Linked DNA regions of Homo sapiens: region 2 is linked to region 1. The links come from fine-mapping of genetic effects on gene expression. A gene starts in region 1. The other region holds a variant in brackets. All regions are shown on one strand. Distances are between the middles of the regions. Region 1 holds the start of SLC35A1 (solute carrier family 35 member A1). Region 2 overlaps RARS2 (arginyl-tRNA synthetase 2, mitochondrial).

What was found. PIP is the estimated chance that this variant, and not a neighbour inherited with it, causes the effect.
Region 2: its variant is the best candidate, but not a certain one, in a credible set for the expression of SLC35A1 in lung (TOPMed, PIP 0.55).

The regions. Positions count from the first base shown.
Region 1 is chr6:87,469,703-87,475,237 of GRCh38, forward strand. SLC35A1 (solute carrier family 35 member A1) reads left to right here and starts at 3,272. Exons shown (of 8, transcript NM_006416.5): 1 at 3,272-3,317. The coding sequence starts at 3,302. It overlaps LOC124901357 (a long non-coding RNA gene), which reads right to left and starts at 3,243. Exons shown (of 2, transcript XR_007059668.1): 1 at 3,071-3,243; 2 at 1,748-2,796. RefSeq lists enhancers at 2,919-3,825, 3,821-3,990, 4,041-4,140 and a silencer at 3,231-3,370.
Region 2 is chr6:87,560,264-87,565,263 of GRCh38, forward strand. RARS2 (arginyl-tRNA synthetase 2, mitochondrial) reads right to left here. Exons shown (of 20, transcript NM_020320.5): 3 at 3,867-3,969; 4 at 2,439-2,522. Among named protein-coding and RNA genes, the nearest start is that of RARS2, 27 kb to the right of the region's middle. The variant C/T (reference allele first, on the strand shown) is at 2,947.

The DNA of each region.
Region 1 (5,535 bases):
GACATTAAATCAATATTTTTTTCCTCCAAGACTGAGGATAATTCAGAGTGAGAAAGTAAAAATTAGTTCAGAGTAAGACTGTAAATAGCTGCTTGGTCATTAATTGAGCTGGGATAACAAACCCAGGTAAACCCTGCTGCAAAGTTAATGGGAAATAACTAAGTATATGCTGACACTATAAAGTATAATAGCAAGGCCCTTCTTTGAGTGTTTGCTTTCTAATTCACTGAAAAACTTTGTTCTCTAAAATCATATACTCTAGGAAAACTTGCTGCTTGAAATTACATCAGTAAGAATGAAACACCCTACTTTTGCTTGGGGGGATCTACATCATTTTCATACAAAGAAGCAGCCTCAATTAAGGGGCTCCTGAATACAACATTCCACATCTATGGTAACTTTGTAGTTTTCAAGAAACAGGATCCTGAGACTGTTCTACAGTCCCTATTGGATACATATAGTCCTGCTTTGAGTTTATCAAACACTGCTTCCTTTAAATTTCACCTAATCCCATCCTTCCCTAAAATTCTATAAATTTATCTTTTTTGTTTCCTGAGATACCTCTGGTGTTCAGTTTCCCTCATTGGAATGTGTTTTAGGTGGTTCTTGCAGTGCTATAAAGAAATACCTGAGCCTGAGTAATGCATAAGAAAATAGGTTTAATTGGCTCATGATTCTGCAGCCTGTACAGGAAACACAGTGCTGGCATATGCTTCTGGGTAGGCCTCAGGTAGCTTTTACTCATGGTGGAAGGCGAAGTGGGAGCAGGCACATCACATGGCCAGAGCAGGAGAGAGAGAGAAAGAGAGAGAGAGACTTTTAAAACACCAGATCACCTGTGAACTCAGAGCAAGAGCTCACTTATCACCAAGGCGATGGCCCAAGCCATTCTTGAGGGTTCTGTCCTCATGATCCAGAGCTCCCACCAGGCCCCACCTCCAACATTGAGGATTACAATTCAACATCACATCTGGGCAGGGACAAATACCCACTTTATATCAGAAGGCATCAGTAAGCTCAACTTTGTCAGACTATAGTTTGGCAGATTTGTCCTGTTGGTATTGGGCTAACTGGGTTAGGACAAAGAGGCATGAAAATCTAGTTAAGTTTGATGCCAGTGAAGTATAATAGTCTTTTGAGGCAATGAAAATGTATAAGAAAAGTAGGATTCAACAGCATGATGTTATGTGAACCAGAAATGCCACAAAAATGGCTCAGCAACATTTGACCCACCACTTTAATTGGGATCTCTGTGTGTGTGTGTGTGTGCGTGTGCGTGTGTGTGCATGTGTGTGTGTGTAAAATGCGCTTCCTCACCAGAAGGAATGATAGTTCCTAGTTGATTCTACCACCTAGGACAGGAAAAAACAAAACCTCTTGTTGCCAGAAATTAAAACATGCTTCAAAAAGCTAGTGCAGGCCAGGTGTGGTGGTTCACACCTGTAATCCCAGAACTTTGGGGGGCTGAGGTGGGAGGATTGTTTTAGGTGGGGAGTTCGAGAACTAGCCTGGGCAACAAAGTGAGACGCCCCCACCCACAATCTCTACAAGAAGAAAAAAAGACAAAAAAAAAAAAAAAGTAAAAACAGCTGGTGCAGACTTGAAAACAGAGGCAGGCTTACAAGTGCCTTTTGGAACAAATTGAGCATTTAGAAATTATACTTAATTGATGTAAGCTGACACTATAATGATAGTCCAAAATGGGACAAGATAAACCATACAAAGCAGTAGCTGTAAAACGAAGGACTATATGATATAATATTTTTAATTTTTAAAATTAATTTCACGTACATATATGAATATTGTTTAAATGTATGCATAAGTACATACACAGTAGAGAACTGAATAATTCTACTAGTGGAAACTGTATCAATTACAATAAGGGAAGATTAGCACCAGTGAGCACACTTACTACCAGGTAGAGGAAAAGTCCAACACTATTGCAAAATGAGATTAATCAAATGTCTGCCTCTACAAAGTCAACTCTGGTCTCCTGGGAGCCCCTCCCAATATTAATATGATGCTAATAAGGCATGCAAAATGTTCCAACAATGTTAACAGACCAGATATATCTATATGTATATTTAACAAGACAATGGTATACAACCAACCCTCTAAAAGGACAATTTTGGGGAAAGAACATGCTGCAGAAGGTGTGGGCTGCTGGGCAGCTCAGAATCTTGCATCCCTATTCCTGTAAGTGCTGAGGTATTTTCATATTATTTTAAACCAATCCACATATCTTGAACATCATTTATTTCACCAATGAATTATTTCTAATATCAATTATGATAGCTAATTAACATCCCCTAGTGAAAGTGGAGATTATAGTGGTTAAAATGCCTGTTGATATATCTAATTTTTTTTGTTTTTTGAGACGAAGTCTCGCTGTGTCGCCCAGGCTGGAGTGCAGGGGCGCAATCTCGGCTCACTGCAATCTCCCGGGTTCAAGTGATTCTCCCGCTTCGGCCTCCTGAGTAGCTGGGATTACCGGTGCGCGCCACCACGCCCGGCTAATTTTTTGTATTTTTAGTAAAGACGGGGTTTCGCCATATTGGCCAGGCTGGTCTCGAACTCCTGACCTTAGGTGATCCATCTGCCTCGACTTCCCAAAGTGCTGGGATTACAGGCGTGAGCCACCACGCCCGGCCGATACATCTGATTTTTTAAAGGCCGTTTTGTTGTGCGAAGATCATTAGTTAGAATGCCTGGCTGGGTAAATACAACCGATGACTGCTGACGATATGGAACAGGCACAAGACTTCTGAACGATATGTAGAATAAATTATAACTTATCTAGAACACAAGGTAACAGTGGAAGATAATGAGCCAGGTGGAAGTTACAAATGTTGCCGCAAGTAGTTTCTGTTACTTTACGAGTTCTGGGAGCTTCTCTAACAGCTTTGACAGGAGTGAATCCCCAAGGCTAAACCCAAATCCTTATTTGCCGCCTACTCACGCCTTTGTGAGGACTACGATTCCCAGACGGCAACGCTCCCTTCACTCAACTTCCTTAGCTGGCGGGGAGACGCAGTTTACAGAACTACCTCCCCAACCGAATTTCACACACCTGTCACCTAGGACGCGGCCGGGAAGGCCTCCCTTCGATCCGCGTTCTCCCCATTTTGGGGTGTAGCTTGGATTCCTGAGCCCAGTTTTAGTGCGTGGCCGACCGGGAGGCCGGCGAGGCGCTCTAGGCCGAGCGGCTTCGTCTCTATGACCACAAGGGGCGGTCCCCGGTGTCCTGCGCGGGGGCGCGGAGGGGGCGGGCGTCAGTTCCGCGGGGGGCTGTCGGGGAACCATGGCTGCCCCGAGAGGTGAGAACTGGGTCTGCTGGGAGTGGGGAGTCCGCGGGGGGCGGCGGCGGGCGAGCATCTGCGCTGGTCAGCCCCTGTCGGGCAGCGGAGCACCCTGGTTGCCCAGTGCCTCTGGGGCCTGGCTGAGGCGTCAGGAGTTTGCGTGGAGCCGCTCCCGGCAGTCAGGGCAGCCTGCCTTCCGCTGCGGCTGCAGTCTCCGCGGCTGACTCCGCGCTGGGCAGGTCGGAGTCAGAGACCGCACTGACCTCCACTAGCTGGGAGTGGGTGGGAACCGAATTCTGACAGGCCGGGGCTGCGGCGGACCCGGAGAGAGGCCAGGGCGTGGGTCCGGGGCTGGACCGCATTACCCAGCGAGGCAGGACAGTTCTTCACCCTGGCCCCGCGGCTCCGGTCTCCTCTGCGCCTCCTACCCTGTGGATGCTCAGAGGCTTAAAGGCAGGCTCCGGGCGCAGATCCCATGCGGCGGCTGGGCCATGCAACAACCACTAAAGACATCACTGGGGCGTCAAAACAGCACTGAAATCGTAACGAAAGGAAGATAACAGTCGTTAACAGTTCCCACCTGTATGCTGTGTGTAATTATAGAGAATGCTGTATGCTGCTATTTGGGGTGGAAGCTGAGATCCACCTCCCTCCTCCTGAGGGATGGCACATTCGGGTGAAGGCGTATTTGTTGACTAATTGACATTTAAGGAGGGCGAGTCTAATTGACTCCGCACCACTTTTTGCTGAGCAGTGTGTGTAAGTTGGGACCAGAGGTGGATTCTTTGACTGTGGTGCATTAACCAGGAGAAGTTGGGCAACACCCGGATTCTTGCTCCACCCTTCCTCCATAGAGCACTTGGCTTCACCCTTGAATAAATATTGAACGAATACATAAGGAATATCTTCTTGCGTGGGTTTCAAGTTATTTTCCCTGTTGCGGGGTCCATGTTTCTCATCAGGCCCTGCCCAGGGGCATTGTCTTTAGTTGCATATGCTTCTCTTATGTCTTCTTTCTGTTTCATTTCAAATAAGTCCAATCTTAAAAGCCTTTTTTTGTAGCAACACAGGAAATAAAAGAAAAAGAAATAGAATTGTTTTGATAACTAAAATGGAATGGGGATAGCAAAATTGATCCGAACGAAAACTTATAAATTACAGAAGTCAAATCATTACTTGAAATAGCTGCAACAATGTAAAGGTTTAGGCTTATTGCCAATACATATTTGTTGAGCCTTGATTGTAATCCTAACAAAACTACAGTTTCCATAGTTTCCGAATATCCACAAAGGATTTATCTGGGACTTACAGAATTTCTAAGTTCTTAAGTATTACAAATAATGTCCCCATAAACTATAGTAAAACATAACCGAAAAAAAACATTTTAAACTGTAAGTTTCTTTTGGGGGACATTTCCACACAAACACTATATGGGAGCTAATAGAATTTCGTGAGAAGCAGGGAACAATGCAGGGTTAAGATGTGGCTGCCAGTTGAGTTGTGGGCTAGCTTTATAGTTACTGGCATTGGGTGTGATTTGAATTATTTGCCCAATTTGAAGTGATTACATATGGACTTTTGCTGTTACCCTGAAATAATTGAAATTGCTAATAACTGAAGTTTTATACTGGAGAATTTGTGAATGGAGTGAACAAGAAATAGTTTGGTCTGATGTTAAACTGCCAGAGAAAATCGTACTTAAAAACATTTAGTATTTAAAAGTTGAAATACGTTTAAAAACTGGTATTCCATGTCAAAGCCCAATCTGTTTTGCACATACCTAAACTTATTTGATTACCCTTCCACTTAGATCAGTAGTTATTTTCAAGAATATAATATATATTCCCATATACTCACTATGCAAAAAGGTATTTTTTCAAGTTAATGACAATATTATAAGTCAGAATATGTTTGTAGGCTATCAATATTTGGTTTAGTGTTTAAATATTCACTTTGTTGTTTTTGGAATCAGGAACCTGTACAGTAGCTAAAATAAAGTACTTTTTAGTTTATCAGCCCTAACTTCTCTTATTTATGAAAGTGTTGATAATCTAGGACATGAGATGGCAAACTTTTCCTGTGAAGGGCTGGATAGTCTCTTGTCATAACTACTCAGATCTGCTGTTGTAGGGAAAAAAAAGTAGCCTGGATAATTTAGAAACAAATGAGCATGGCTATGTTCTAATAAAACTATTCATGGACACTAGAATTTGAATTTCCTGCAATTTTCACATAT
Region 2 (5,000 bases), 90 kb after region 1:
CATGCAAAGTTTAATTTGGCAAATTAAAAAGCGTGAAATAAAATGATGTTATCCATTGTGTATTTCTGAAGCATCCCTAAGAAAACAGGGTTTTGTTTGAATTTTTCCTATTTGGTTGAGATCATACTTTCTTTTTTCCCTTTTAACAATTAAATATTATTTGAAGTTACAGTTTCTCTTGAAAGTACTGCAAGCTACTGACAGGTAGAAGTTTGGTACCAAAGTGACAGTTCTTTGCAATGTCATTATGGTTATTTCTCAAACAAAGATATATTAATTCTTTGTTGGTCCTAACAAGAATCGAATTTTTTTTCTTGATGTGATCTGAAAAATCCATTAAATATGCAAATGATGGCAGGGCACGGTGGCTCACGCCTGTAATGCCAGCACTTTGGGAGGGTGAGGTGGGTGGATTACCCGAGGCTGGGAGTTCAAGACCAGCCTGACCAACATGGAGAAACTAAAAATACAAAATTAGCTGGGCGCGGTGGTGCATGCCTGTAATCCCAGCTACCTGGGGAGGCAGAGGCAGGAGAATCGCTTGAACCCGGGAGGTGGAGGTTACGGTAAGCAAAGATCGTGCCATTGCACTCCAGCCTGGGCAACAAGAGCAAAACTCCGTCTCAAAAAAAACCATGCAAATGACCATCATCTGAGACCTAAAACTTATGGTGTAAACCAACTTACTGCACTGCCAGTTGTATAAAAGTATAGCACATACAATTATGTACAGTACATAATACTTCATTATAAATGACTATGTTAGTGATTTATATATTTACTTTTAATCATTATTTTAGAGTATTATCCTACTTATTAAAAAATGGACTGTAAAACAGTTAAAATTATAAAACTAGAGATCCAATACGTGAGAAAAACAGATGCTATAAGCTTGAGAAAAGAAAAATAGCTCAGAGTAGTCTCAGCTATGTGAGGTATGCAGGCCCAGAAAGACATGCATATCAAACATCAGTTATGCACAAACTCTTCCTCCTATGGGTGGGGGCAATTGTTTTATGTGATTTTGTTCCCAACTAGCTGCCTCACACATTATCTTCATGTTACTGGCATTTGTGACACAAAGAAAAATATACAGCCTATCAATAGCTTACATTATTTTAATGTAAATTCTGGTTAACAACTCAAACTCCCTCTTCTTTCCCTTTAAAAATCCACTTGTAACTGCTGCCTATCAAAGGGTATATTCACGGCAACTTGAATCTGTGCTCCTCAGCTGCAATCCTCAAGCCTGGCCCAAGTAAACTCTCTACTTATATTAATTTTGCCTCAGTTTCCTCCTTTTAGGTTGACAGCCAAATGTAGAATACATTAAATTTTCAGTAAAGAAGAATTATCATTAAAATTGTAACACAAAGCAGAGGTACATTCAATAGTCTTTTTCTGAACATGAGTGCTCACTGCTCCAGGATCTGATTTTACTGTGACACTGAGCAGGGCAACTGTAAGCAGTCCGCTTGCTCCTTTATTCAAATTCTCACTAAGATTCAGATCCTCAAGGCTGCAATACGGAAGAATTCCCATGTGAGAAAGAGTAGTTGGACTTCAAAGCCCTGACTCTTGTCCCTTCAATGTCAATTGAGAAGGATTTGGGAATATTTTTAATAAGTGAGCTAATGGGTATCCTTAAATCAGAAAAATTCTTTAGTTTGTTAATTGCAATAAAGCTTGAAAATTCATGGCCATTGAAATTTTTATTTTGAGACAAGGTCTCGCTCTGTCACCAAGGTTGGAGTGCAATAGCACAATCACAGCTCATTGCAACCTCAAACTCCCAGGCTCAAGCGATCCTCCCACCTCAGCCTCCAGAGCAGTTGGGACTACAGGCGCAAACTATCATGTGTGGCTAATTTTTAAATTTTTTTGTAGAGATATGCTGCCAGGGCTGGTCTTGAACTTCCGGGCTCAAGTGATCCTCCTGCCTCAGCCTCCCAAGTGCTTATACAAACCTAGATGATACAGTCTACTATACGCCTAGGCTGTATGCTACAGCCTATTGCTCCTAGGCTACAAACCTGTACAGCATGTCACTGTACTGAATATTGTATGCAACTGTATCATAATAGTGTCTGTATACTTAAATATATCTAAACACAGAAAGGTACAGTAAAAATATGGTATTGTCTTATGGGACCATCATCTATACACGTTGTGTATGAAATGTCATTATGTGGTATATGACTATACAGTGCTATGAGAGCATATAAATGAAGGGGTCAGAAAGCTACTGCCAAAGAAATATCAAGATTTAAAGGATGAGTAGGTGTTAACTTGGGGTGGTACTCTCCAAGTTATGGATCAGTATGTGCAAAGGTTTTGAGGCCAGAGGAGGCATAAAGAATTTAAAAACTGGAGGAAGACCACTGTGGCTGAAGCAGACAGAATGAAAGCACAATGGCTGGATATTAACTTATTCTTACCTTTGTTAAGAGCTCTCTGTTTATTTTGAAATTTACAGTCCTTTGACCAGTACTGATTTCACTCACCACTGTATCACATCTTAGCTGAAAAGAACAAATCACACAAAGTAGGTATGTTATATAATAGGCCTAATGAGATAGGTAGTTCTAATGCTATTTTTGGCTTACAAAGACACAAGTAAGTCATCTTTCATGGTCCCTATATCGGGTCCCAGTTCTCAGGCAATCTCTTTAGTTCCATACTTCTATTTAAGTAAACACATTTTCTTTTTTTCCCAACTAACATGCTATTCTGTATTCAGTCTCTCTCTTCCTCATTCTCTTTCCCTCCCCTCAAATTCACCTTGTAACAAGTAAGAAAAATCACTCTACCCATATTCTACCTACTCTGACATACGATGAACACTTTTTATCTCACCTAGCTTTCATGAGAGCCACAGAACATGACATTCTGTCAGGGTCTACGCTAAAGCACCTGCACCAACAGATAAGATGTAATTTAGATAGT[C/T]TGTCTTCTATGCATATGCCTTCACTTTTTAACCTATTAGATGTTCGAAGCCATCTCATGAAAAACCTATGGAACTTGAAGAGATATCTGCTGTCACTAAAGAGCAACTAGTCTTTATTTTTAAGAACTTACAAGAAATGGGGAAAAGGAACTAAATACTGTATTTTGAATAATTCTATTCCTGGTAAATATCTGGGAGTGATTTTCTGATCAAATAAATATTTACTAAGCTACCAATGCTCCTTTATCATAGTCACCCTTTAAATAAGCATCTTTTTCTATGATAGTGACTTTCATTGTTCCAATTCTTTTGAGTTCCCAGACACTGACTCTGTGGATGTATGTTAATAACCTTGTCCAACATTATCTGCCTTTTCTGAGGGAATTACACTAACAATTTATGTTTAGTAATTCCTTGCAATCCTTTCAATTCCTCTGTTAGATATCAAACCCATCAGAGAACTTAGAAATGAAAGAGGCTTATTAAATCATCTAACCACCTCTTCTCTGTAATCATGATTCTATTTACATCTAATCATTTCTTCTCATATTTCAATGTTCATCTTTTCAGAAACTCATTTTAAAAATTGCAACTCACTGCTCTAATTTATCAAGCTTGTTCTCCTAAATTCAAAAGTCCATCCAGCTTCAATCTGTAAATTTAATTAACACTTCAGTCTTCCTGTAAGTGGTTAATCAAAAAATTGAACAATGTCAGCTCAAGAGGAGTGCTTTATAACTAATCTGAAAAATCATTATAACCTTATAGTACATGGCTAAAATGAATTTAAATTATATTACACAAGATGCCTCAAAGAAACACTATTAAATTCACTATTATGGCTGAGATAGCCTGCAAAGTACTTTTTTTAATAACAAGTTTATTACAATGTCAAAAAGAGATAATAGTGCTAACGTACCTTCTCTGCTAGTCTCTTGGCTTGAACTTGAATATCTGGTCTTGAATGGTCATTGTCTTTTTCCAATAAAGAATCCACAGAAAGCTGAAAATCAGCTACTTCTCTAAAGACAGACATCGAAACGAGATAGAACTGTTACCTTAAAAGCATTAGTTGTTAAACAAAGACTAATCACTATGAGTTCTCCATTGAGACATACCTTTACCAGAAGAAGGTGTTATGTGTACTTTCAAAATTAAAAGCAAGGGGGCCGAGAGCGGTGGCTCATGCCTGTAATCCCAGCACTTTGGGAGGCTAAGGCAGGCGGATCACCTGAGGTTGAGTTCTAGACCAGCCTGGCCACATGGTAAAACCCCATCTCTACTAAAAATACACACACACACACAAAAATTAGCCAGGCATGGTGGTGTGTACCTACAATCCCAGCTGCTTGGGAGACTGAGGCAGGGGAATCGCTTGAATCCTGGAGGTGGAGACTGCAGCGAGTCAAGATTGTGCCACTGCACTCCAGCCTGGGTGACAAGAGCGAAACTCTGTCTCAAAAAAGTAAATAAAATAAAATAAATAAATAAAAAACAAAATTAAAAGCAAGAAAATGAGAAATAACCTAGTATTTATTCAGAATGTTTTTCTTATCATCTTATAAAATTCTTCCTCTTCTGTCTGGGCACAGATCCCAGCACTTTGGGAGGCCGAGGCAAGTGGACCACTTAAGGTCAGGAGTTTGAGACCAGCCTGGCCAACATGGAAAAACCCCATCTCTACTAAAAATACAAAAATTAGCCAGGCGTGGTGGCATGTGCCCGTAAGCCCAGCTACTCGGGAGGCTTAGGCACGAGAATTGCTTGAACCCAGGAGGCAGAGGTTGCAGTGAGCTGAGATCATGCCACTGCACTCCAGTCTGGGTGACAGAGCAAGACCTAGTCTCAAAAAATTCTTCCTCTTATACTAGCCACCTTATTTTATAGACATGAAAACTGATGTCTGGCAAGCTAAATGTCTCCTTTAAAATCCTACTGCAAATAAAAACAGACTGAGAAAAAAGCCCAGGTCTCTTTACCTCTTCTACAATGCTTCCTCTACTACTCCAAATACATGCTTCTAATTCAAACCTCTCCACTGACCTCCAAATGA